Homo sapiens: one gene and its partners. The main gene of each other region encodes a partner of the protein of the gene in region 3 in a complex. Each region holds a gene or a part of one and is shown on either strand. Other genes may lie near its edges. A codon is read from its position in the direction of its gene.

Region 1 (7,425 bases), on a different chromosome or scaffold from region 3:
AAATTTCTTACCACCTTTTCTAATTATCTGACTCCCATCGTTGGGACAACCAACCACAAAGTGCACACAAATGAGTCTGCCCTCTGGAAAGTTCCACCAAATAACTAAGGGTGGCCTTATTTCAGAGGGCTCCCCACAGTCATCTGAGGGCTATGTAGTCTATTCTGGGTTCCGTAAACAATCTGAAATTTTACCCTATTTGCAAGCTAACAAGCTAGTCAGCCACAGTTTCATCATGCTAGTATTAGACTCAAGACTCCTGTGTTAAGGGATAATTTATTACTCATGGCAATAGCAGTGACCAGAGCAACAGTATTAATTTTTGTGCTGCTGTTCTGAACCCCAATTCCCATATGCCAACATGAAGATGCCACATAATACTTGTACTGGCAATGGACTGCAGCATAGTGTAGTGTAGTGTAGTGTAGTGTAGTGTAGTGTAGTGTAGTGTAGTATAGTATAGTACAGTAAAGTACAGTATAGTACTTAGAGAACCTGATTTTTTTATAATGGGTAGTAATCATGCTTGTTCTTTGCTCCAGAAGGAGTCATTTTCTCTATCTTGGAACGCTGTTCACTACAAAAACATCACTGAAAAGATAGTTTCAGACAAAGCCAGCACCTCTGTTCTCAAGATATTCAGAAACCCAGAAAATTGTCTCCCAAGGGAAGCCTGTAGTTGGGAGAAATTATGAGAAACCACTAACTTCTAATTCAGATTTTGCATGAGTTAGGATTATATTCAGCTACATATAACAAAATCACAACTACAGTGGTTTACCTAAACGTGTTTTTTTGTTTGTTTCATTTTTTTTTCCCTGCATGTCACCAGAGTCCAGAAGTGCACAGTCCAGGTCTGGAACGGCTACATACAAGGTCATCAGGGACCCGGGTCCCTATCCGTCTGCTCCACTATTCTTGTCATGTGGCTTTCCACCCCATGGTCACAACATGCATACGCCACCTCCATCTGTACAGTTCTGGTGGTAGGTGGAGAAGAATGGTGACTAGATTTTAAGGAAGGTTAAAAACACTAGGATAGGAGGCCGGGTGCAGTGGCTCACGCCTGTAATTCCAGCACTTTGGGAGGCCAAGGCAGGCGATCACCACGTCAGGAGTTAGAGACTAGTCTGGTCAACATGGTGAAACCCCATCTCTACTAAAAATACAAAAATTAGCCTGGCGTGGTGGCGGGCGCCTGTAATCCTAGCTACTCCGGAGGCCTCAGCCTACTACTCCAGAGGCCTAGCTACTCCGGAGGCCTCCTGCGGAGGCAGGAGAATCGCTTGAACCCGGGAGGGGGAGGTTGCAGTGAGCCGAGATCGCACCATTGCACTCCAGCCTGGGCAACAAGGTCGAAACTCTGTCTTAAAAAAAAAAAAAAACCCAAAACACTAAGATAGGAAAGAGGAAGAATTAAGATATACATGTAAGGTGATCAGGAGACACTAACAAGTTAATTTTCTCAGATGCAGTGTGAGTATAAAAATTAGAAAATTTGAGCAAGTAGGTGGATTAGATCAAAGTGATACTGTGTTTTGAAGGTCATCAGCAAAGCATTAATCAGTTAATAATGTAACAGGAATGATTTGAAAGGTTTAGTGTAACAGTAATTGAGTAGATAAGCTATAGTTCAAAAATATATTTTTAATGTAAATGGGTAATTTGAAATTTTGTTACACAAATGCACAGTTCAAAAGTACTATAATCTCTCATTGTTAGATGTTGCTATTCAGGTTTATAAGTTATAGCTTGTAGTACTGTGTAAAGATAGGCACCATGCTTACAAGATCAGAATTCAGCTTGAGGCTGTGTGAGTTTACGACAACACTGTAGTGTGCCACTGTACTTCTCTACCTTCTGTATCGCCGTATGGAATTACTACACAAAATTAGCACTAAGAAACCTAAATTTCCTTACAGTAGAAATAAGCTTATATGAATAATTCTCTTATAGAAATTAAACTATCTGCTGCAGTTGTCAGCAGGGTTTAATTTTTAGCATAAGCTGAGGCCATCAGTTTCTTAGCAGTCCTATTCTTAAATAATCATTTCTGTTTAAGAGATCATTTTACTGAACAATTTCAAAGCACTAAATATCTTCGAGATTGAAAAAATAAGCACCTATAGATGGAGCAGAAACTAAAGAAGAACAATTTAAGGAAAAAGACAGTCCTTAACTATGCACGCATCCTATGAATTATCCATGCTTTCAGCTGGTTTCCTTTTACTGCACTGTCTAAAACTCCATATTTAAAAGGGTTTGATACAGCAGAGTTAGAATGTGGTCAATGAAATCTGGAGCTTGTCAATGGGTTTCAATAACTGATGCCACTTTTAGCTCTGCTAACATAGTAGAGATTATAGACAGAATTCTCTTGGCCAACTCCTATCATGGGATAAAACTCCTCCCACACCAGTTTCTAAAGGTAATGTAACTTGCTTCTATTGGTTTAAAATTATTAAATAATAAATACGTTTCTCAGCTAGTCAAAAGATATGTCCAGGCTCTTCTCACAAGTTCAATGTTAGGTGCTGTGGGTGCAAACAGTAATTTAGTAATTGTCACTGTTATTATAGTAATCCTAATAATCCCTTATTCACATAATTCTTCATTTTTTAAAAGTATTCCATATTAATTTTCTTATTTGAGATTCTGAATATTACTCTCCAAGTAATACTGCCCCATTTTACAGATAAGGCAATTCAAAAAACGTTTAAGTGACTTGCCCTAAGTCACAGGCACTAGAGAAACTATTACATGCAAGATAAACCTGGTCCCTTCATTTATGACACTCCATTCATAGTGGGACATTCAGACGAGTTGTGGGCAACTGCAACATGGTTAAGTGTTGAGCTACAGCATACAACGTACATGGCATGGAGAACAGTCTTGGCGGGAGAGGGGTCAGGGAAGTCTTCCCAAAAGAAACAAAGTGTCATTTCAGACTTCATTGTGTTGGCCCTGGGGAAGAACATTCACTTCTACTAAATTCACTTATTCTGTTCTCAGAATCTTCCAAGTTGATTTTGTACTTGATAGAGCACAACTTAGAAGGTCAATTAACTTTACCTCTAGGCCAGTGTTTCACTCACCGTAATTTCTCTAGCAACTTCATCAGTCACCTGGGGTCTTGTTAAAAATACAGAGGAGGGGGCGGAGGGAGGGCAGGGGCCACCCTGGACTTAACTTTTTCTAAATCTCTTGGGGGTGAGGTTGGGGAAAATTGCTGCTTTAAGCATGAACACTTTCGGGATTTTGAAGTCAAACAGCAAATTAAAAGGGGTATTTTTGGTAGTGGCTCTTAAATTCCAGCATCAATACAGCCTTTTTTTTTTTTTAATAGGGGTGTATTTGGGGGGTAGGGATAGCAATTTTATATAACTGGGATTGGGTGCTATAAAACAGGCTGTTAGCCTCCAGCCCTCACCTGCAAGGTGGCTGGCTTAAGGTAGGTACTTGATAAATGTGGATTTATTTAACAGAGGAACACTTGTATTCATAACCTCCAAGAGTTTCGAAAGTCTTTCTGCTCCAATCTTCCAGTGTCTAGCCAGCAGCATTGCTGCAGAGTGGAACAGCTAGGGTGCGTGGAGTTTGCAGAATGAGTTCAAACCTCCAGACTTATCAGTTAGCAGTAAGAACAAGTTCCTTAATCTGCCTCCACCTATAAAGAAGGAGTACAATTGCCACTTACCTCCTAGAGTTGTTGAGAGTCTTAAATGAGATTAAATATTATAAATAGATTATCAATGGAATATATTATAAATGCAAGTGCTTAGAACTGTACCTTATAAATGAGCTCCACAGATGCTTATTAAAACCCGAGCGGTGCCCTCTCCCCTTAACATCCGTAATAGGCCCCCTTACACCTCATACCCATTACGAGTCAAAATAATAATAATAATAATAAATAAGTGAACAAACGACAAACGAGAAAACTAGGCTACCAGGCACTGGGGCGATGGGCCACAGCCCGGCGGGGTAGTGGGCCCGGAAGGGGCGCGGGAGTGGGCTCTCCCCGCCGGGCTCGCGGCACGTGGTCGGCTTGGGCGGGAGCTTCGCGACAGTGGGGGAGGGGAGCAGCGTGGGACGCCGAGGAGGGGTCCAGACCGCCAAGGCTACGAGGCGCCGACTGCGCAGGCTCGGGGACAGGCGCAACCACTGCGCGCAGACCTGAGGGGGAGAACGTCCACCCGGCTGCACGCTCCCTGGATCTACTTGCGCAGCGAAAGCTTGTCTTCTTCCTCATTTTAACACTGTGTATGGCGCCGCCTTGCGCAGGTTGTTCACCCTAACAGGGCCTCTAACCTCGAGCCCGAAACGGCCTCCTTCTCCAGCCGTGCCCCTTCCTCCCCCGTGGAGGCCGCAGTGGATGCGCTCACCTCCCTGCGGCCTCCTGAGGTGGTTTGGTGGCCCCCTCCTCGCGAGTTGGTGCCGCTGCCACCTCCGATTCCGAGCTTTCGGCACCTCTGCCGGGTGGTACCGAGCCTTCCCGGCGCCCCCTCCTCTCCTCCCACCGGCCTGCCCTTCCCCGCGGGACTATCGCCCCCACGTTTCCCTCAGCCCTTTTCTCTCCCGGCCGAGCCGCGGCGGCAGCAGCAGCAGCAGCAGCAGCAGGAGGAGGAGCCCGGTGGCGGCGGTGGCCGGGGAGCCCATGGCGTACAGTCAAGGAGGCGGCAAAAAAAAAGTCTGCTACTACTACGACGGTGAGCGGCCGGGCCGGTGTCGGGGTGGGCGCGCGGGGCCGGGCGCTGGGTTCCGCGGCTGCCGTCGCGAGTGGGCGCCGGGGCTGAGGGGTGGGAAGGAGGAGGGACCGACATTTGGCCGCATCTTAACCCGTTCCCGGCCCGGCACAGTTAGAACGAGACCCTCTTCCTGGCGCAGCCCCCGCGGTTCCTGCGGGCGGGAATCAGGGGGCCCGCCCGTCTTGTCTCCTGCCTCTCCCCCTTCGGCCGTGCAGTCCGCAGCCTCGAAGGTGGCCGCCGCTGGGGACGGCGCCGGCCTACCCCGCCTTGGTGGTGGCGGCGGCGAAGGGGGCGGCCCATTCTCTCCCTTCTCCCGCCCACCATTCGTGGCAACGCAGGTTTGGGGTGCCCCGCGTCGGCCTCCTACCCCCTCGACCCGTCCCCCGCGAGGCAAAATTTCTATCCCGGCCTTGACTCTACACAAAGCCCCGCGGCCGCGAGAGCTCCGCCCCTCCCGTCCCCTTCCCTCCTCCTCGCCTGCTCGCCTCCCCTACCCTGCGTTCGGTCTGGCCGGAGCGTCTTCTCCTTCCTCGGCTTACCCTTTCCCCGGACCCCTCCTCCCGGTGGGCGCTGGAGAGTAGTTACTGAGGGTGGGGGCTCAGGTCGCGTGTGGCTTTATCACACCCATGTTTTGCGTGGGCTCCAACCCTCTCCTTTGTTCGCTGGGTTCTTTGAGCGCGTCTTTCTCAGGATTCAAATGGAAGGGCTTCACTTCCTCAATAATAGTTCGGGTTTTCCAGTTTCAGGCAGAAAGACTTCGTAGGAAATAAGAGGTGGTAGGGAGATGTGGAACTGCTACTGCTTGTGTTGTAGATCAGACTCCATGGGTCCTGGCTTGCCTCAGAGAGGTGGTTACCACCCACTTCTTTGTTGCTCTTTGTTCGATCAGGAAATAGACCCTGCTTTGGGGATTTAGAGAGCATTGGTATCTTGCAAAGGCTGTTCCTAGGTGGTGGGGAATCCTGGTATGGGAAAACTTTGAGAAGTGGGAGAAGTGCAGAAGTACTAAATATTCTAATGAGGTAAATTTGAGGTCACCGTGTAGTGAATTATAAAAGTCAGATAATTTAATTATCTTAAGCATTCTATAATTTGGAGTATGAGCAGTAACATTAAATCTTCGAATCCTGTTTCCTGTGTTTTCTTGCTCAATGGAGTAGTAACCTGTTATACAGATTTCACAAAGGCTTGGTAAATAGTTTATAGTAGGTTACTCTTGAGAGAAGGGATTCCAAAATTTAACAGAGAATCTATCCTAGGCTCCTTCTCCTGAAAGTCCTGTCTGATTTGTAGGAAGCAATACAAATTTTGGAAGCTGTTTCCTACATGTGGTGTATTGTAAATCACAAAATTTTAGAGAAGTAAGACCCCAGAGCACCAGCTCAGAATAAATCTACTTTAACTTGTAAATGACCGTACTGTCTCTTTTTAGTTAAAAAGGATTAATCTTTTAATGACTGATACATATAAAATAACCACCTGTGTCATTTGGGGAAAATCTGAAATCTTACAGAACAAATCTAAATTGATCTGCGATAGCTAGGACAGAATAATAACAGCCCTACTTTTAAAAATGATTTTTCAGAGGACTAGATATGCATTATATAAGTTGATTTGAAATTATGCCATCGTGGAGGGGTGGAGATGGAAATACATTTTAATTTCAACATGATTTACATTGCATATTTTGGGTTATTCTTGCCCTGCATTCCCTGATCAAATTGGAAAGGAAGTAACCCTGCGTATAAGTTAATTTGTAAAATTACATTGTTTCTAAAGTTTAGAGATTTATCCTTGTCAGGGCTTGGAGTAAAGAGGAAAATTTTGGTTAGGGAAAGTGGTACTGAGGTCCTTCTCGAAGCTGTCAGTTGGTGTTGGTAGTGATGGGCTCTGAGGAAGTAAGCTGCTTGTAATTTGTTGTCACCACAATGGAACCCTAGAACCAGGAGGGTACACTTGAGTAGCAGTTTCTGAACAGCGCTCTTGTCCTGGGCCCATTTATGATAACCTTCGTTGTGGGAATGGGAGCAGGCACGGGTACCCGGGAAAGGATGCAAGCTTGATAAGTAGGGTGGAAATATTTGTCTTGTGATTGTGACTTAATATGATACTTTATTGTAGCCCATTCACCTGCTTACGTGATGGCCAGCAACAAGTGAATAGCTGATAGTTTGGAAATCTCTGGTGGGTTATTTTGTCTTTTGTCTGTGACTCGTTTGTTAAAGTGGAGTTCCTAGTTGCTTATGTTTCACATACTCTTTTAATTTTTGTGGGAGGGAATTAAAATATTTTGCAGAGATTATTAATGTTTATATTATGCTAATTATTAATATGTGATAGTGTGCTGACCTCATCCAAAAACTTATATTTTTATTACCAGAGAACATTGTTTTGTCAGCTTACAAAAGTAGCAATACTAATTCTTTTTTTATTGTGAGAAGAGAATGCAAGGAAAGGAGCTTCTGTATCAAAGAATCGTGACTTTAAGGTATATAACATGGATTGGATTGGGAATGGGTTATATCTGTAGTAATAGGGTCTGAATTATCTGCTAGCCTAGGTTAGATGGTTTTAACTTCTTGGTAAAGGAAGTAGAAGGAAGAAAGTGAGTGAAAAAGAAAAGGACGGAAGTAGCAAATTCTATAACCATAGGAATCCTACCTTTAGGCTTCCTGGG
Region 2 (7,942 bases), on a different chromosome or scaffold from region 3:
TCCCAGCAATTTTACAAGCTGGGATGGGGTGCCCTCCTGGGCAAAAGTATCTTGGGAATGGTAATGGGAGTTTCCTACATAACTTCTGACCATAAACTTAATTTGCTCAGTATCAGTCATCTGTCTAATAAGTGTTCCCAAACCTGCAATTAGTACAAATATACAGTAGACACTACTCCACAAACCGAGAGATGGAACGTGAATGGAACTGTTGAGAGACCTTCGGTGAAATTTCACTTAAAACAAAATAAAAAGAGGGCTAAAAAAGGCAACATCAAACAACTGGTGGGAACACAGAACAGCCCCCTTTTCCTCTCTCCAGTCTGGCTCCTCTCTCAAACCCCTGCCTCAGTCAACTGTTGCAGAACAACAGAACGAGACCCAGTAGAACAAGACGAAATCTGGGTTTGCTGCCGCAGATGTGGGATTTTTGTGGAGGGCAGAGGTGATTTCGGCCGGCAGAAGATGGAGTTTAAACTCTTCTTTGCCGGATTGTCCTGGGCTGAGCCGCTGAGGAGGATCACGCAGCGGGCGATCAACTCAGGTCCCTCCCTCTCGGTTCGGTCTCTCCCCTCCTCTCATGTCCAGTAAGGGGGAAAAAGCGTACGGCTTTCCAGCTCTCAGCTCCTTAAAAATGCCTTTCTAGTGCCACCGCACACAATCCTCCCTCTGGCAGCAAAGAATTTTGCAGCGAAGGGCTCGCCGATCCGGAGCGGAGAAATGAAATCGGCGCCCAAGGGCAATTTTAATTGTCTAACCCGGCCCGATTTCCTAAGAGGCAGCGGCGCCGGGAGGGAGGAGGGAAGAGGGAGGAGGAAGGAAGGCAGCTCTGAGAGGCAACAGGGGGCAAGCGGAGGCAGAGAAAGGGGATCAAAGCGGCGAGATCCCAGACGGGGCCCCCGAGGAGCTTCTGCAGAAAGGACTCTGGGGCTGTCCCCACCGTTCCCCCGAGAGACGTTTGCAAATCATATATGCAGCCAAAATGGCGCTGAGAATAAAAATATAATTTAAAGGCAGGTCGCCATATTGTAAACAGAGAGGCAAAGAAGAGGCGGACTCGAGAGACACCCTCCACGATTTTTTCTACAGCCACAAGCGCCCGGTTGCCGGGGTCTGGACCAGGGCAACTCAGGTGGCCGAGGGCTCCACGCACCCACCCCGAGGAGATCCCGGCCGGGCAGGAGCCCCGAGGGCAGCGGGCGCGCGGGCAGGCAAGCGGCACTGGGCCCGGAGCTCCTCCCCTTCCTCCCCCGCCACTGCCGGCTGTCCCCGGCCGGCTCTGTCCCGGCTCCCCAGCGACTTCCAATCCCATATGGGGTTCTCTTCACTCGTCCCAACCCCCACCTCGGGGTCCGGACCCACCGCTGCTCCTCCCCGCTAAACTGCCAGAACCCGGCGGACACCTGGGGGCGGGGAGGTGCTCGCCCCGGCAGCTGCAGAAAGTCAGCTAGCGGCTGCAAGCGCCCGTTATTTCGGCAGTCAGGGGCAGGCCGGGTGAAGGAATGCGCAGAGAAGGGTCCGCCAAGAAGCTCCAAAAGGGTCCCCAGACCTTACCAGCACTGGAGGTGGAAGGCAGCCGGGCAGTGGTCGCAGCACAGGAGATCTCCACCTTCCTTGCAGCTATCGCAGCTGTCGTGGTTGGTGGCCCTGCCGCTTCTCCGGGGCTCCTTCTCAGGCTTCCGACTGCGCTTTTCTGCCTCGTCCGTCTTGGGGGGAGCCAGCAGAGCTTGGATTTGCTGCACACACATACAAACGGCGTGTGTGCACACTCGGAGCTCCCGGGCGGTCCGTCGCCCCCCCGGCGCGGTTTCTCCGTCACCCACCCCTCTCCCCCCTTTTGTCCTTCTTCCTCCCATCCAGGCTGCTCCCAGAATCTCTCAGCCCCCGGAACCAGGGGGAGCCCACCCTAACCGCGTTCCTGCAGCACAACAACGAGAACAGCTTCTTCCAAATGGGGAGGATCAAGGGTAGGGGGATGGGAAGAGGGTGCGCGGTTCCCTTCTTGCCACTTCCTTGTATGGACAGTGGGGGACTCCAAAGACCCGCTCGGGAGAGGCCCAAAGCCCGGTACCCGGACGTGCTGGGGGAAGCACAAAGGGGCCAACAAGAAGGGGGTGGGGAGGCCTGCCGGTGCAACGAGATGGAGTGGGCTGGCGCCTCGGGAGAGCGAATCGAGGGCGGCGGGTAGGTGAAACTGCTGCAAACGTCCTCGGAGGCTGAGCTCAGCCCCCTAAATTGCAAAGAGGGGAGGGAGAGGCTAGGTGAGGAAGAATCCCCCTCCCTCGGCCATCTAGGCGCTTCGAGTTTAGGACTGGCTTTGTGGGGCGGAGGGCGGAGGTTCCCTCCCGGCGCTGGAGGAAGGAGATGAGGAGGGCCACTCTTACCTCCATCAGCCCCCCTGATGTGTCCAAGTCGTACACGATCGTCTTGGTCTCCATTTTCTCCCACATTCATCCACCTCCCGGGCTGGGTGCTCTCTGCTCCGGCCCCCCCAACCCCGGGGGGAGGGGGGAGGTGAGGGGAGGGGGCGCTCCTGACCCCGGCCCCGCTTTTTTCCCAATACGGGTCCCGACTTCCTCGCCCTGGCTCCCCCCCACCCCCCGGCCCCCAGTCCCCGGGACGACAGCGTCCTCCCGACGGGCCGCGAGGGGGGAGCGGCCCCTCAGTCCCGGCCCGGCTGCTGGCTGCACAGTGGGTCCCGGCTCCGGGGGTCAGGCCTCGGCGGGGCCTAGTCCCACAGGCTAAAGCCGGCACTGGCGACAGCCGGTCCGGCCGGGAAGGCTGGCGGGCGCTGCCATCCCGGGGCTGGGGGTATCGGAGGGGGGGTGAGAGGTTACGTGAGGTTGTGGTACGTGAGGTGACTGGGGGGAGGGTGATGGGGGGTGGTCCCCGGGCTCCGCCTCTCGCCGCCGCCGCCGTCTGCGTCCCGGCTGCCGCGCACTTGGCGCAAACTTACCGCGAGCGCCCGCAAAGCCACCCGCGCAGGCGCCCCGGGATCGGCGCTCGCCGCGCGCAACCGCAGTGACAGCCGGCGGCCTGGCTCCCGCGCAGCCGCGGTGAGGGAGTACCCCCCAGCGCGCAGCCGCGCTGGCATTCGTCTGGAGGACCGAAGCCCCACCTTTCTGCCCTGCGCCAGCGCACTGAGACAAAAGGGCGGGACCTGAGGTCTCGCGCAGGCGCTTGAGAAAGCTTGTAGGGGTCAAGGCGCAGCCGCAGGAAGCTAGGGACTGTTCATCCATTGGTGTTTGTGTGCAAACTAAGACGACTCTGTTCTGCGCAGGCGTGTTGGGGGTGCTCCCCCTTCCTCTCCATAACACAGACGCCTCCCGCGCAGGCGTATTGCCTTCCGCAGGCCCTCACAAGAAAGCTGCTCCTTTCGCCATTTTGGTAATGGGATATGGGCTATCATGCCCTTGGAGTCCTCAGGCATGAACAGAAAGGAGCAAGGTGTGGTGTTGGATGGAGCTGGTCGCCTGTCGGTGACAGCAGTATTCCTAGGGATGTTGTACTTGACCGTTTGGTTCTACCATCGGGTGTGGCTGGACCAGGCCACCATATTGGTAAAGAGAAAAGCCATTTGAGACAGAAAATGACGCTTTTGGAGGCGTGTGGGATGACTGTGGTTCCTAATTCTCTCCCGCTCCTGACAGATAATTTTATCAGTTAATTGTATCCTCAGCATCCCTGCCTTGCGTGGTGGTGGCACTGGAGAGTTCCGCCTGCCCGTTACCACCCTCTCTTCACCACTGTCCCTGAGATCTGCTCTTCAAGAGGAAGCCTAAAGTGGAGAGTTTGTAATCCTGACAACGCCCAGCTACCTGCGTACCCCGGACTCCAACTCCCAGTTTGCAACGCCAAAGGGTCTAAAGGGCGAACGGGGGCGCATTGCATCCTGGGAGCAAGAATCGCGATAGGTCTGATGGATTGTGGGAACTGTAGTTCCATGTGCGTGCGATGCACTCTATGGTAGGATAGACCCGGGGAAGAGTCATTTGCCGGCCAGGAAGGGATACTTTTGAGAGCGTCAGTGCTGCATGCCGGGATTTGTAGTCTGAGGGCCCGCCTCGCATTCTGGGCGGGGATTCATGCTCCTTTTCAGGGCGCCCGCTCCTCCCCTTGGTATTGCCGTCAGAGATGGGCGGTTGGTTATTGCTGCCTGATGGTGGATGAAGCAGTGGAAAAGAGAATTGTATCGTTGTGCTTGACACTAGGGGTTTAGTTGGAATTGTTGCTTCGTAGCTGTGCTCGGCCCACTTTTAATGTTAAGGGACACAGCATTCTCAGAGTCGTCAAACTAGCAAGGGTTTAGAGACCATCTGATTTAATCCCCTCTTTTCCAGATGCACAGGGAGGCGCAGTGATTTGCCTAGGTCACATAGTGCATTTATGGCAGACCTAAGAATTGGATTTCTTGATTCTCAAGCCAGACACTGTCCATTACACTATGTCGACTGTGTCTAAGGAATTACTATGCTTGCTTTGGGGACAGTAAGGAGGATGAGTTAGACAGAGTGGGGATGTCAGTGTATGGAGTCTTAGGTTTCTGTTTTCCTGACTTTTCGCTTTTCTGATGACCCTCTTGGTGCCTGGAAAGAATGATAAGGTCATGGATGGTGGGGTGGAGAATGTCATGTGAATTGGCTGCCCTCTGCTTTCTACCATTCTGAGCCAACAATAAACTTCAGGAGCTGTGGACCAGAGATGTGGCCATCAGAGAGGGGAGGGCTGAGCTAGATTGTTTGTATGAAAGAGGCAAGATTTTCTATCTCCTATGGCTATATTTTATGTCACAGGCTCTCAGAGTTTAGAACCTCATGTGCCCTCTCTCTTTGGCTTTTTTTCCTACTGCTCAGGGCCCAGCTGTGCTGCTGTGTTAACCTGGAGGCATTATGGAACAGGTAAGTAAGCCATTGGCATCCATCCACTGGACAAGGCTTTGCTTTGATCAACACCATCAATTGCAGCTGATAATAGGAACTATGGGCTAATGAGGGAAATAAGACTTGGCTCTGTTGACAAGAGCCAGGGAAACTTCACACCTCTTCCTCTTGGAACTTGCAGGATGAGGTTAGGCCAGTGGGGCCAAGGAATGCTCCCACCTTGGAGAGCTCCCGCCCTGACAGTTGAGGGGGGATTGAGGGGCGAGCAGGTGGGATACAGACGCCTTTGGAAGTGACCTCTTGTGGCTAATCTAGGCACTGCACTCTGCATGGACAAGAGCTTCTCCATCCTTCAAGGTGGCTTGTGCTAGAGCCAGGGGTAGGCAGCATGAGTGGTCAAGACTTCCCTTTTGGAAGACTGTAGAAGCAGAAGGTGCTGGTTGCTGCTATTATTTCTTTCATGGATTTTTCTCTACTGGTTTCTGAGCTCCCATAATTTCCTGTTGCCTGCCTCTTGCTGTCACTCTTGGAGAGCAGCAATGCAGGGCACACCTCTCAGCATGGAATGTGCATACTGGGGGCCAACGCTGGGCACTTTCCATCTTTGTAGGTGCTGGGGCCCATAGGGAAGGGGCAAACTTGAGCACATCCTCCCAGCCACCTTTTTCCAGAGCCCATGGTTAGGGCCTTTGCCTAACTTAGGATCCAAGCCCGTAAGCTGCATTACCACTGCTCCTGACAATCTAAGGGTTTTGTAAGGCCAAGCCAGATTAGGGCTTCATGTTTTGGGGATCAGTCTCTGTTTCCTATTCTAATTTCCCAAGCCTTGCTTACTTAGAAATAAGGGGAAGGAGAGATGCATCAGACTTCCTGAGCCTAGTTAGCATTGAGAAGGGCATCAGTGGCGTTGAGAAGGGATTTGGGAGTGTGCCAGCCTGTAGTTCTGGACCTGGCAAAGAGGAGGAAATAAGGCATTGGGTGGATGTGCAGTGGGGTTCCTGGGCTCCCACATCCCTGTAACATCAGCCATTGGGGCCTCTGATTTTGCCTGCTATCTGTTGCACTGTCCCTTTTGGTACAGGGGACCCTGTTCAACTGCATGCAATAATTTCTTTTAAAATAAAATCTGAGCACTTTGGGTGGCTGAGGTGGGAGGATCACTTGAGCCCAGGAGTTGGAGACCAGCCTGGGCAACATAGTAAGACCCCATCTCTACAATAATTTTTTTTTAAATTAGCCATGTGTGGTGGCCTGCATCTATAGTCTTAACTATTCAGGAGGCTGAGGTGGATCACTTGAGCCTTGGAGGTTGAGGCTGCAGTGAACCGTGATCCAGTCACTGCATTCCACCCTGGTTGACAGAGTGAGACCCTATCTCAAAAACAGTAGTAATAAAATAAAATCTGAAGATGATTGATTGGTGGGTCTAGCATGCCTTCTGGTCCTGAAGTCCATATCCCATTTATCTCCCACCTCCCGTCCCTCCAAGAAAGCATCATTCACCTGGCCATTGCTTTTTTTTTTTTTTTTTTTTTTTTTTCCAAAAACACCATTTTAATAAGGAAACAACAGAAATAAAAGATTGTTCTCTGGCTGGAGCCCAGACCCCATATAATACATTACATGTACAAAGTGGCTTTCAGCCAGCTCCTGGGCGTCTCCCTGGGGCTCTCCTACCACCTGTTCCATGCCAAATTCCTGGGTCCTTGGACCTCTGCTCCTCTCCAGAATATGCCCACCCCCTCCCCTTATCCCATAACACAGTGGTCAAGAGGAGAGCCTGACAAGTGGCTGGAATTGGAGGAGGGACTATTAGGGTGAAGATGTTTGCAACAGCTAAATAAACATCGGAGGAAAGTCTCCCTTTCCTCAGGGTATAGGGTGGTCAGTGGAAAATGGCGTGTCCTGCTTTGGTGTGGAGCATGAGTGCCCAGGGAAGCCCAACCTGAGGTGGGGGTAGGGTCCCCCTGAACCCCTTAGGATCTCCTAGAATTACTGCCTCCACTGGGACAGGGCAGGAGGCAGAACTGTCCAGAACTTTAGAGAACTAGAGACCTCCCAAGAGGCTGATGTTGGCATGCCAGGACTACCCAGAGGTCACCGTTGAGAGGAGTTTTGGCCATTGGTGATGGCGCTGTGAGGAGTACCCTGGTGCAGTTCCCACCATGGTCAAGTTAATCCTGCTGCAGGTTGCCATGCCAGGGCGGGATGGTGGTCATGTGGAGAAAGGTACTCCTGCTCTGCTAGTGTGTTCCAGGCTGGTCCAGGGCATGAGGAGGCTCAGGATGCTGGCTGTTGATGCTTGTGCTCCAGCTATGTTCTTCCCACAGGTAGATGCCCCCTGACATGGGCCCAATGAAGGGCCCCAAGTGGGCAATGACACCAAGAAAATAGGCCATGGTGGGCATCGCAGGCGGGGAAGGGCACAACTTCTTGAGGGCTTGGTGGCATCTCCTCCTAGGTGGTATATACAGGAGGTGGAGGGACAGCAGGAAGCAAGGAGCCTTGCTGCTGGACTGTGGTGCAAGTCTGAGTTGACTTCCCTAGACTGCCCCCACCTAGATGGAGACTTCATATTCTCTCGTCTCCTGCAAAGGAAAGAGACTGCTGGGAGTTGGAAACTTGTATTAGGTTTGCCAGGCCATAATTCACCTTCCCTAGGAAAAGGGAAAAAGTGAGAGGGCTTGGCAGGACCCTCAGGGTTATCTGCCCAAAGAAGCAAAGAACTGGGTCTTGGATAGGGTGGCAAGGCTGGCATGGTTACTTACTCCAGTCTCGTAAGTTGGATTGTCAAACGCTGACTCTATGGTAATGCGGTTGTAGGGGCGGGGGCGGGGGCGGGGCAGCTGCAGGGAGCTTTTTCCCTGGAGCCTGTGGGGCAGAGAAGCCTGCAAGTCAGGAGCACTGGGTAGGAGTGAGGTATGCAGGTATGCAGAGCAGAAAGAGAAGCCAGACTCACCTGGAGAAGTAGAAGTATACACCTCCTACCAACAACACCATCGCCACCAGTGGCAAGAAGATGGCAGCTGCAATGTGGGCAGCATCCAGGGTGCTGGAGGCAG
Region 3 (7,596 bases):
CGGAGGTTGCGGTGAGCCAAGATCGTGCCACTGCACTCCAGCCTGGGCGACAGGGTGAGACTCCATCTCAAAAAAAACAAACACCAGTTTTCAGAGACTCCATGATGCCATGTTTGTCAAGAATGTGGAAAAACAAGCCTTTTCTTAAATTGCTAGTTGAAATGTAAAATGATGAAACCTTTCACAAGGCAATTTAAAATGCCCACATTCTTTGACCTAGTAATTCTACTTCTTGGGTCCTGAAAAAATAAAAGCAAAGTGCAGAAGGCAGGCATGGTGGCGTGATCTGTATTCCCAGCTACTCTGGAAGCTGAGGCGTGAGGATTGCTTGAGCCTAGGATTCCAGGCTGGACACTCTAGCCAGGACAACATAGCCTGGCTGTGTTGACACGCTACCCTGGACAACATAGTGAGACCCTGTCTCTTAAAAAAAAAAAAGAAAAGAAAAAGCAATGTGCACAAAGATTAGATAAATCTTGAAATATTTATACTATGGTATGTCGAAAGCTATTGAAAATGTGAGGGACTCATGTTTGTAATCCCACCACTTTGGGAGGCAGAGGTGGAAGGATTACTTGAGGCTACGAGTTGGAAACCAGCCCAGTCAACATAGCGAGAGCACATCTCTGCAAAAATAAAAGTATTAGTTGGGTGTGGTGGCATCCACCTGTAGTCCCAGCTACTGGGGAGGCTGAGGCAGGAGGATCACTTGAACCCAGGAGCTGCAAGCTGCAGTGAGCCATGATCATGCCACTGTGCTCCAGCCTGGGAGACAGAACAAGACGCTGTTTCAAAAAAAAAAAAAAAAAAAAGGTGAGATAGGCCTGTATGTAATTTGAACAATCTCCAAGATATATTATTATGTTAAAAAAGAATACAACTGGGCCGGGCGTGGTGGCTCACGCCTGTAATCCCAGCACTTTGGGAGGTTGAGGCGGGCGGATCACAAGGTCAAGAGATCGAGACCATCCTGGCCAACTTGGTGAAACCCTGTCTCTACTAAAAATACAAAACTTAGCCGGGCATGGTGGCGGGCGTCTGTAATCCCAGCTACTTAGGAGGCTGAGGCAGGAGAATCGCTGGAATCCGGGAGGCGGAGGTTGCAGTGAGCCGAGATCTCACCACTGCACTCCAGCCTGGCGAAAGAGCGAGACTCCGTCTCAAAAAAAAAAAAAAAAAAGAATGCAACTGAACAATATGTACAGACCATTTATGGTTAAAAAAAAAAAATGGAGAAAAATGCACACGCCAAATGGTGGGAAGGTAAATGGGGGGAGCGGGGAATAAACATGTTCCTTAAGTTTTGCCCTGTATTTTATATTTCTCAATTGTTGCATCATGAGCCCAAATATTTGAATATTACCTGTGTAATTAACACATAAAGGCAAATAAGTTAACTTCAATACAAAAGAAGAAATAACACAAAGAGGGTTCTAGGATAAAAAAACTCATGGATTCCCAAACAACTCATAACAGTGGGGGAACTGGGCAGATGAGGGGTGGAGGTGGGAAAGAGACTTTCACTATTTTCTTTTTTTTTTTTTTTTTGAGATGGAGCCTCACTCTGTCGCCCAGGCTGGAGTGCAGTGGCGTAATCTCGGCTTACTGCAAGCTCCGCCTCTTGGGTTCATGCCATGCTCCTGCCTCAGCCTCCTGAGTAGCTGGGACTACAGGCGCCCACCACCACGCCCAGCTAATTTTTTATATTTTTAGTAGAGATGGAGTTTCACCGTGTTAGCCAGGATGGTCTTGATCTCCTGACCTCGTGATCCGCCTGCCTTGGCTTCCCAAAGTGCTGGGATTACAGGCGTGAGCCACCGCGCCCGGCCCACTATTTTCATTTTTGTATTTTTAAACGTTTGGATTAAAAAAGTATGTGCAGGCTGGGCGCAGTGGCTCACGTCTGTAATCCCAGCACTTTGAGAGGCCGAGGCGGGTGGATCACCTGAGGTCAGGAGTTCGAGAACAGCCTGGCCAACATGGTGAAACCCCATCCCTACTAAATATACAAAAATTAGCCGGCCATAGTGGTATGCGCCTGTAAACCCAGCTACTTGGGAGGCTGAGGCAGAAGAATCGCTTCAATCTAGGAGGTGGAGGCTGCAGTGAGCTGAGACTGCACCACTGCACTCTAGCCTGGGTGACAGAGTGAGACTTGGTCTCATAACAACAACAACAACAAAAAATTGGCTGGGCGCAGTGGCTCATGCCTGTAATCCCAGCACTTTGGTAGGCCAAGGCAGGAGGATCATAAGGTCAGGAGATCGAGACCATCCTGGCCAACATGGTGAAACCCCATCTCCACTAAGATACAAAAAAGTAGCTGGGCGTGATGGCACACCGAGTCCCAGCAACTCAGGAGGCTGAGGCAGGGGAATCGCTTGAACCCAAGAGGCAGAGGTTGCAGTGAGCTGAGACTGTGCCACTGCACTCCAGCCTGGCTACGGAGCGAGACTGTCTCAAAAAAATAATTTAAAAAAAGTACGTATTTTATATTCAATAAAAAATTTAAAAGTGTACAGGACAGTTTTGGTGGGGTGGGGTCCAAAGAAGCCCTTGTCCCTTTTTACAATTTAGCAATGGTGTCCAAGGGAGTGAATACAGTCATGGGTTCTTAGTTTCTGTTTCTGGTTGGGCCAGTAAAGCCCCTTCCTCATCCCCCTTTTCCACTTATCACTAGAGACTGAAACTAAAAACCATGGCTTCAGGGTGCTAAAAGCCTAAACAAAACAAAACAAAACAACAACAAAATAAGACAGGTTGGACAAGCTTGCGAGAAGTAGTCGTGACAAGATGGTGTATATTCAACTGGAATAAGGAAGGTTTTTGTGGGTTTCTGTTGTCAGAGAAGGGGTTGTGTTAAAAAGACTGAAGGAGAAATGGAAGTCAGATAAATGGAGAGGGGCCCGGAATTGGTGGGGTGTGGAACCCGGGCAGGGGAGGGCTTAGAAAAGCCATGGAGACAGGCTGGGCGCAGTGGCTCACGCCTGTAATCCCAGCACTCTGGGAGGCCGAGGCCAGCGGGTCACCTAAGGTCGGGAGTTCAAGACCAGCCTGACTAACATGAAGAAACCCCATCTCTACAAAAACACAAAAATTAGCCCGGTGTGGTGTCACATGCCTGTAATCCCAGCTACTCGGGAGGCTGAGGCAGGAGAATCGCTTGAACCTGGGAGGCAGAGGTTGCAGTGAGCTGAGATCGCGCCTTTGCACTACAGCCTGGTTAATAAGAGGGAAACTCCGTCTCAGAAAGAAAAAAAAAAAAAAGAAAAGTCATGGAGACAAAGGTTTGCGTAGGAGGATAAAGGTTTACATAGGGGATGCAGGTAGGCTAAGGGCTGTTTGTGGAAGGATTTAAATACCAGGCTAAGGACTTTGAGATTTATCGTCTAAAGTTCATTGAGCACTTATTCATTGTTGGGTACCGCGCTAAGCCCGTATATGTAATTCTCACAATAAACTGACGGAAATGGTGCTATTTTGCAGCTTAGCCAACAAAGTTGTTTTTGAACAGGGAACGACATAAATCCGTTTGTTTAGGCCAGGCACGGTGGCTCACGCCTGTAATCCCAGAACTTTGGAAGGCCAAACCGGGCGGATCACGAGGTCAGGAGTTCCAGACCAGCCTGGCCAACATGGTGAAACCCAGTATCTACTAAAAATACAAAAATTAGCTGGGCGTGGTGGCACATGCCTGTAATCCCAGCTACTCCGGAGGCTGAGGCAGGAGAATCGATTGAACCTGGGAGGCGAAGGCTGCAGTAAGCAGAGATCGCGCCACTGCACTCCAGTCTGGGCAACGGAGCGACACTCCATCTCAGAAAAAAAAAAAAAGGTATAATATTGAAGAAATCCGTTTGTTTAGAGTGACAAGAAGCACAAACAGGGCAGGTACGGAATACAGACGTTGACATATTCACACTAGCCTTTTTCAGAAAGCAGAGCTCCATTATCTCAAAAAGCTAAAGCGTGACTAGTGTTTCCCACGTCATCATCCTCATTTCCGCAAGGCTGGGCTGGAGAAGAGGAGGTAGACCTAGGAGCCAACAAATGGCTATCAATCCCACCAAATAGGCTCCGCAGTGGGGTTGCTAAACAACGAAGCTTCCAGAAGCGGACCCCAGTTCCCACCCTCTTGCTGATCCTAAAGCCTTTCTATGCAAAAACTAGCGGAATGCTATTGAATGTAGGTTTCCGAGCCAGCCCTATTCTCTCCGACTACTTCAACATCAACGGGGGCTTATTTGCCCAAGGGACGTCGCAACTGGGCCTTTCCCATTCTATTATCACTGGTGGCTCACCACCCCCACTCTCCCCCATCGCCAGCTCCGCCTTAACCTCCCACGAAATCAAATCCCCGCTTTACCAACCCGCAGCAGCCGGGGGCATGGAGAGAGAAGCGGGGGTGGGGTGGGGTAGGGTAGCCGGCCCCTCCCCCACCCGGGGGGGGGGGGGGGGCGCCTCCACCGACTCCGAACTACCAGTCCCGGCGTGCCCTGGGGCGGCGCGGGCGCAGGGGCGCGTGCGCGGCGGGCTGTCGTTGGCTGGAGCAGCGGCTGCGCGGGTCGCGGTGCTGTGAGGTCTGCGGGCGCTGGCAAATCCGGCCCAGGATGTAGAGCTGGCAGTGCCTGACGGCGCGTCTGACGCGGAGTTGGGTGGGGTAGAGAGTAGGGGGCGGTAGTCGGGGGTGGTGGGAGAAGGAGGAGGCGGCGAATCACTTATAAATGGCGCCGAAGCAGGACCCGAAGCCTAAATTCCAGGAGGGTGAGTGTGCGCCTTTGGGAAAAAGGCACCTAACGGCGCAGGAGATAGAGGCGGGCTCGAGGTGATTGAGGCTTGAGGGCCGGGGGCGGCGCGGGCTGCGCCCTGAGAAGGCGGCGGTCAGTGCTTTGTGCGGGGAAAGCGCATTGCGGATGGCAATTCCGGTGCGTCATTGTGAGAAAGCGCTTTGTGAAGCGAGAGTGCTGCGCAGGCGTTAGAGTGGGAGAGAGAGCGTTTGGCGCGTGGCACACCCTCGTCAAGTGTTTGTTATTGTTCTGAGGAAGAGGGCGCGGAGAGAGCAGCCTATTGTAGGGAGGCGACGGGAGCGCCATGGCGGCGGTTAGGGGAAGTGATGTGGCGGCGGGGGGGGAGGGGCGGTGGCTGTTTCGGGCGGTCCTGCGGCGCGCCCGGCCGCTTGGGCAGCTACGACGGGTTTTTCGGTGCTTCCTGGAGCCCCGGGGTGGTTGCGTTCGGTGGCAACTCAGCTGCGGATGGGGGTGGGTTTGGCGCCACGGGGCGGGAGAAGTGCGTTGTAAAATGGCCGTTGCAAGATGGCGGCGCCATCATGGCCGCCGGCGTCTCGGTCCCGTATGGAGGCACAGCTTACGGGCAGATGCAGCGCCCCCTTCCACGACGACCAGAAGGTTGCCGGGGCCCTCCGCATACCACAGAGTGGTGGGTGGGGACAGAAAAAAAAAAGTGAGATGAGCGTTTTCCTCCGCTTTGTGTTGCCTGGAGGCATCACTCTGCTATTCTTGGGCGCAGTGCCGAGATCCTATGGTAATGTGAGTGAGCTCTCGCTTTGCAGTTGCTCGTAAAAAGTAAATAAAAATGATCTGAATGCAGTGTTGACGCCGTTTGCATTTGTAAGTCCCATTGCCTCGACGTCATTTTTTAAATGCAGTAATTGTTTGATTAGTTGCAGTGTTTAACAATGACTTGAAAGTTGAATTTCTTTTTATTAATTGGTTTTCGATTGACATGAGTTTTGGGTAAGGTTAGACTGACTCCCAGTGGAAGGCAGCTCTTTAAATTTTCACAACGCTTCAGTTAACGTATAATAAGGTGGAGGTCTAATAGCTAAAAAGGAAGTAAAGTCCTGTTGAGAAAGGAGGAACACTTTAACATTCCTTTTCATTGCTATGGAAATTTATGCTAGTTACCGTAAATACGATGTCTACATGCGTACGATTTTTGTTCTAGGGGTTTTTAGACTTGCATTAGAATTCCTTTTAGAGCCGTAAACCTCAAACCGTAGTACTGCGTATTTTAAGTTTATGGAATATTTAAGGAGGTTTTAGGGGTATTTTGTTAATGAGTGACTTTTTTTGTTTGTATTTTTGAGACGATGTTTGTCACCCAGGCTGTAGTGCAGTGACGCTATCTCGGCTCACCTCTGCCCCCCACCCGGGCTAAAGCGAGCCTCCCAAGTAGCTGGGATCACAGACGCGCGCCATCACGTCCGGCTAAGTTTTGTTTTGTTCTGTTTTGTTTTTTAGGGTTTTTGTTTTTTCTTTTCTTTTTCTTTCTTTTTTTTTTTTTTTTTTTGTATTTTTGGTAGAGACGGGGTTTCATGTTGCCCAGGCTGGTCTCGAACTCCTGGGCTTGAGCGATCCACCCGCCTCGGCCTCCCAAAGTTGTGGGGGGTTAACGGGCGTGAGGCATCGCTCTCGGCCGTGTGACTTTTAATACCCCTCTCTCACCTTGAGAAGCTGTTGACTCTACCTCCTATGGGTTCATTATTTTACTAGACATTTTAGAGCAGATATTCTTAATCTAGAGTCAGTGCATTAATTGAGACGGTGCGTGAAATTGAGGAAGATTTTTTTTTCTATCTCCCAAGTTTAGTATTTCAATTAACAGTGTAATTGCTCCCCCTAAACCCCGAAAAAAACCACCACATTAGCATTTTCAGTATATTTTCATATCTCAACATTACAGTTATGGAAGATGTTTTCAGTTATCGCATTCTTATTTCTTCAAAATTAGGGTAGTTATTGTATTAGCAGCCAAGTCTTGTTTGTCCTGTAATGTCATAGAACGTGACATTTAAAGTGTTTTGTTTCAGTACAGTTGGTTTCCTTTGTACTAGTGTGTGTTTTATGTATTTATGAAACTATTAGGCTCGTAGGGTTTATCAGACTGTCAAGGCACAAAAAGTTAATCGCTGCTGTGGGAACAACCTAAGGATGGCTGTTCTGGAAGAAGCGCTTTAGTTCTAGAGGGTTGCTAGTTAAGAGAGGAGTAGCAGCAGAGATTTCCTTGTGCCGTTTTAAGTGGGGTAATTGGAGAAGAGTAGGAACCAAGGTATCCCCAGGTAAGGGTTTGAAAGCTGTGTAAGAGAGTCTGTATTTAACATTACTTTCCAGGTGTGTTTTGTACTTGTGTTTAAAATGGAATTGTGTAACCACGTTTTAAAAATGATTTTAGTGGGTGGGGCACGGTGGCTCACGCCTCTAATCCCAGCACTTTGGGAGGCCGAGGTGGGTGGGGGCGGTGGATCACCTGAGGTCAGCGGTTCGAGACCAGCCTGGTCAGCCTGGTGAGCCTGGTGAAACCCAGTCTCTACTAAAAATACAAAAATTAGCAGGGCGTGGTGTTAGGCTCCTGTAATCCCGGCTACTCGGGCGGCTGAGACAGGAAATCGCTTGAACCCGGGAGTCGGAGGTTGCAGTAGGCCGAGATCCTGCCATCGCACTCCAGCCTGGGCCACAGAGTGAGACTCCATTTCAAAAAAAAAAAAAATTTATTAATTAGATGATCGGAGAATATCTTGCAAGGGAAAAAGAATATTTGATGAGTGCTAACAGAATCGTCTTGAAACACTGTAGAGTT

The links. The genes of interacting proteins can lie anywhere in the genome.
Region 1: the proteins of MORF4L1 (region 3) and HDAC2 are in contact, whole or in part, in a cryo-EM structure (PDB 8C60), measured with the Homo sapiens proteins. Residues at the interface, in NP_996670.1 of Homo sapiens: Pro355, Glu356, Arg359, Lys360; in NP_001518.3 of Homo sapiens: Gln93, Arg94, Asn96, Ser146, Glu147.
Region 2: the proteins of MORF4L1 (region 3) and PHF12 are in contact, whole or in part, in a cryo-EM structure (PDB 8BPA), measured with the Homo sapiens proteins. Residues at the interface, in NP_996670.1 of Homo sapiens: Glu201, Lys204, Pro205, Leu207, Val208, Asp209, Trp211, Asp212, Tyr251, Ala252, Glu255, Val256, Gly259, Ile260, Glu262, Tyr263, Val266, Met267, Thr270, Gln271, Leu272, Leu273, Tyr274, Lys275, Arg278, Pro279, Tyr281, Ala282, Leu285, Arg304; in NP_001028733.1 of Homo sapiens: Cys62 (codon at 1,619), Glu64 (codon at 1,613), Gln81 (codon at 1,562), Cys82 (codon at 1,559), Asn84, Pro86, Pro204, Leu206, Arg207, Arg208, Pro209, Phe210, Leu212, Leu213, Ile214, Ala216, Ala217, Arg220, Asn221, Pro222, Thr223, Gln224, Phe225, Gln226, Leu227, Pro228, Glu230, Leu231, Thr232, Thr330.

What each region holds. Positions count from the first base shown.
Region 1 is NC_000006.12:113,968,141-113,975,565, reverse strand, and holds the start of HDAC2 (histone deacetylase 2), read left to right. Parts: upstream 1-4,417; 5' UTR 4,418-4,657; coding exon 4,658-4,709; intron 4,710-4,836; exon of another isoform or gene 4,837-5,086; intron 5,087-5,287; exon of another isoform or gene 5,288-5,865; intron 5,866-6,906; exon of another isoform or gene 6,907-6,932; intron 6,933-7,425. UniProt on the Homo sapiens protein: Histone deacetylase that catalyzes the deacetylation of lysine residues on the N-terminal part of the core histones (H2A, H2B, H3 and H4).
Region 2 is NC_000017.11:28,948,511-28,956,452, forward strand, and holds the start of PHF12 (PHD finger protein 12), read right to left. Parts: upstream 3,009-7,942; 5' UTR 2,451-3,008; coding exon 2,385-2,450; intron 1,737-2,384; coding exon 1,555-1,736; intron 1-1,554. Other genes in the region: SEZ6 (seizure protein 6 homolog), read right to left, coding at 7,096-7,468, 7,840-7,942.
Region 3 is NC_000015.10:78,868,294-78,875,889, forward strand, and holds the start of MORF4L1 (mortality factor 4-like protein 1), read left to right. Parts: upstream 1-4,596; 5' UTR 4,597-4,724; coding exon 4,725-4,764; exon of another isoform or gene 4,765-4,925; intron 4,926-7,596. UniProt on the Homo sapiens protein: Component of the NuA4 histone acetyltransferase (HAT) complex which is involved in transcriptional activation of select genes principally by acetylation of nucleosomal histones H4 and H2A.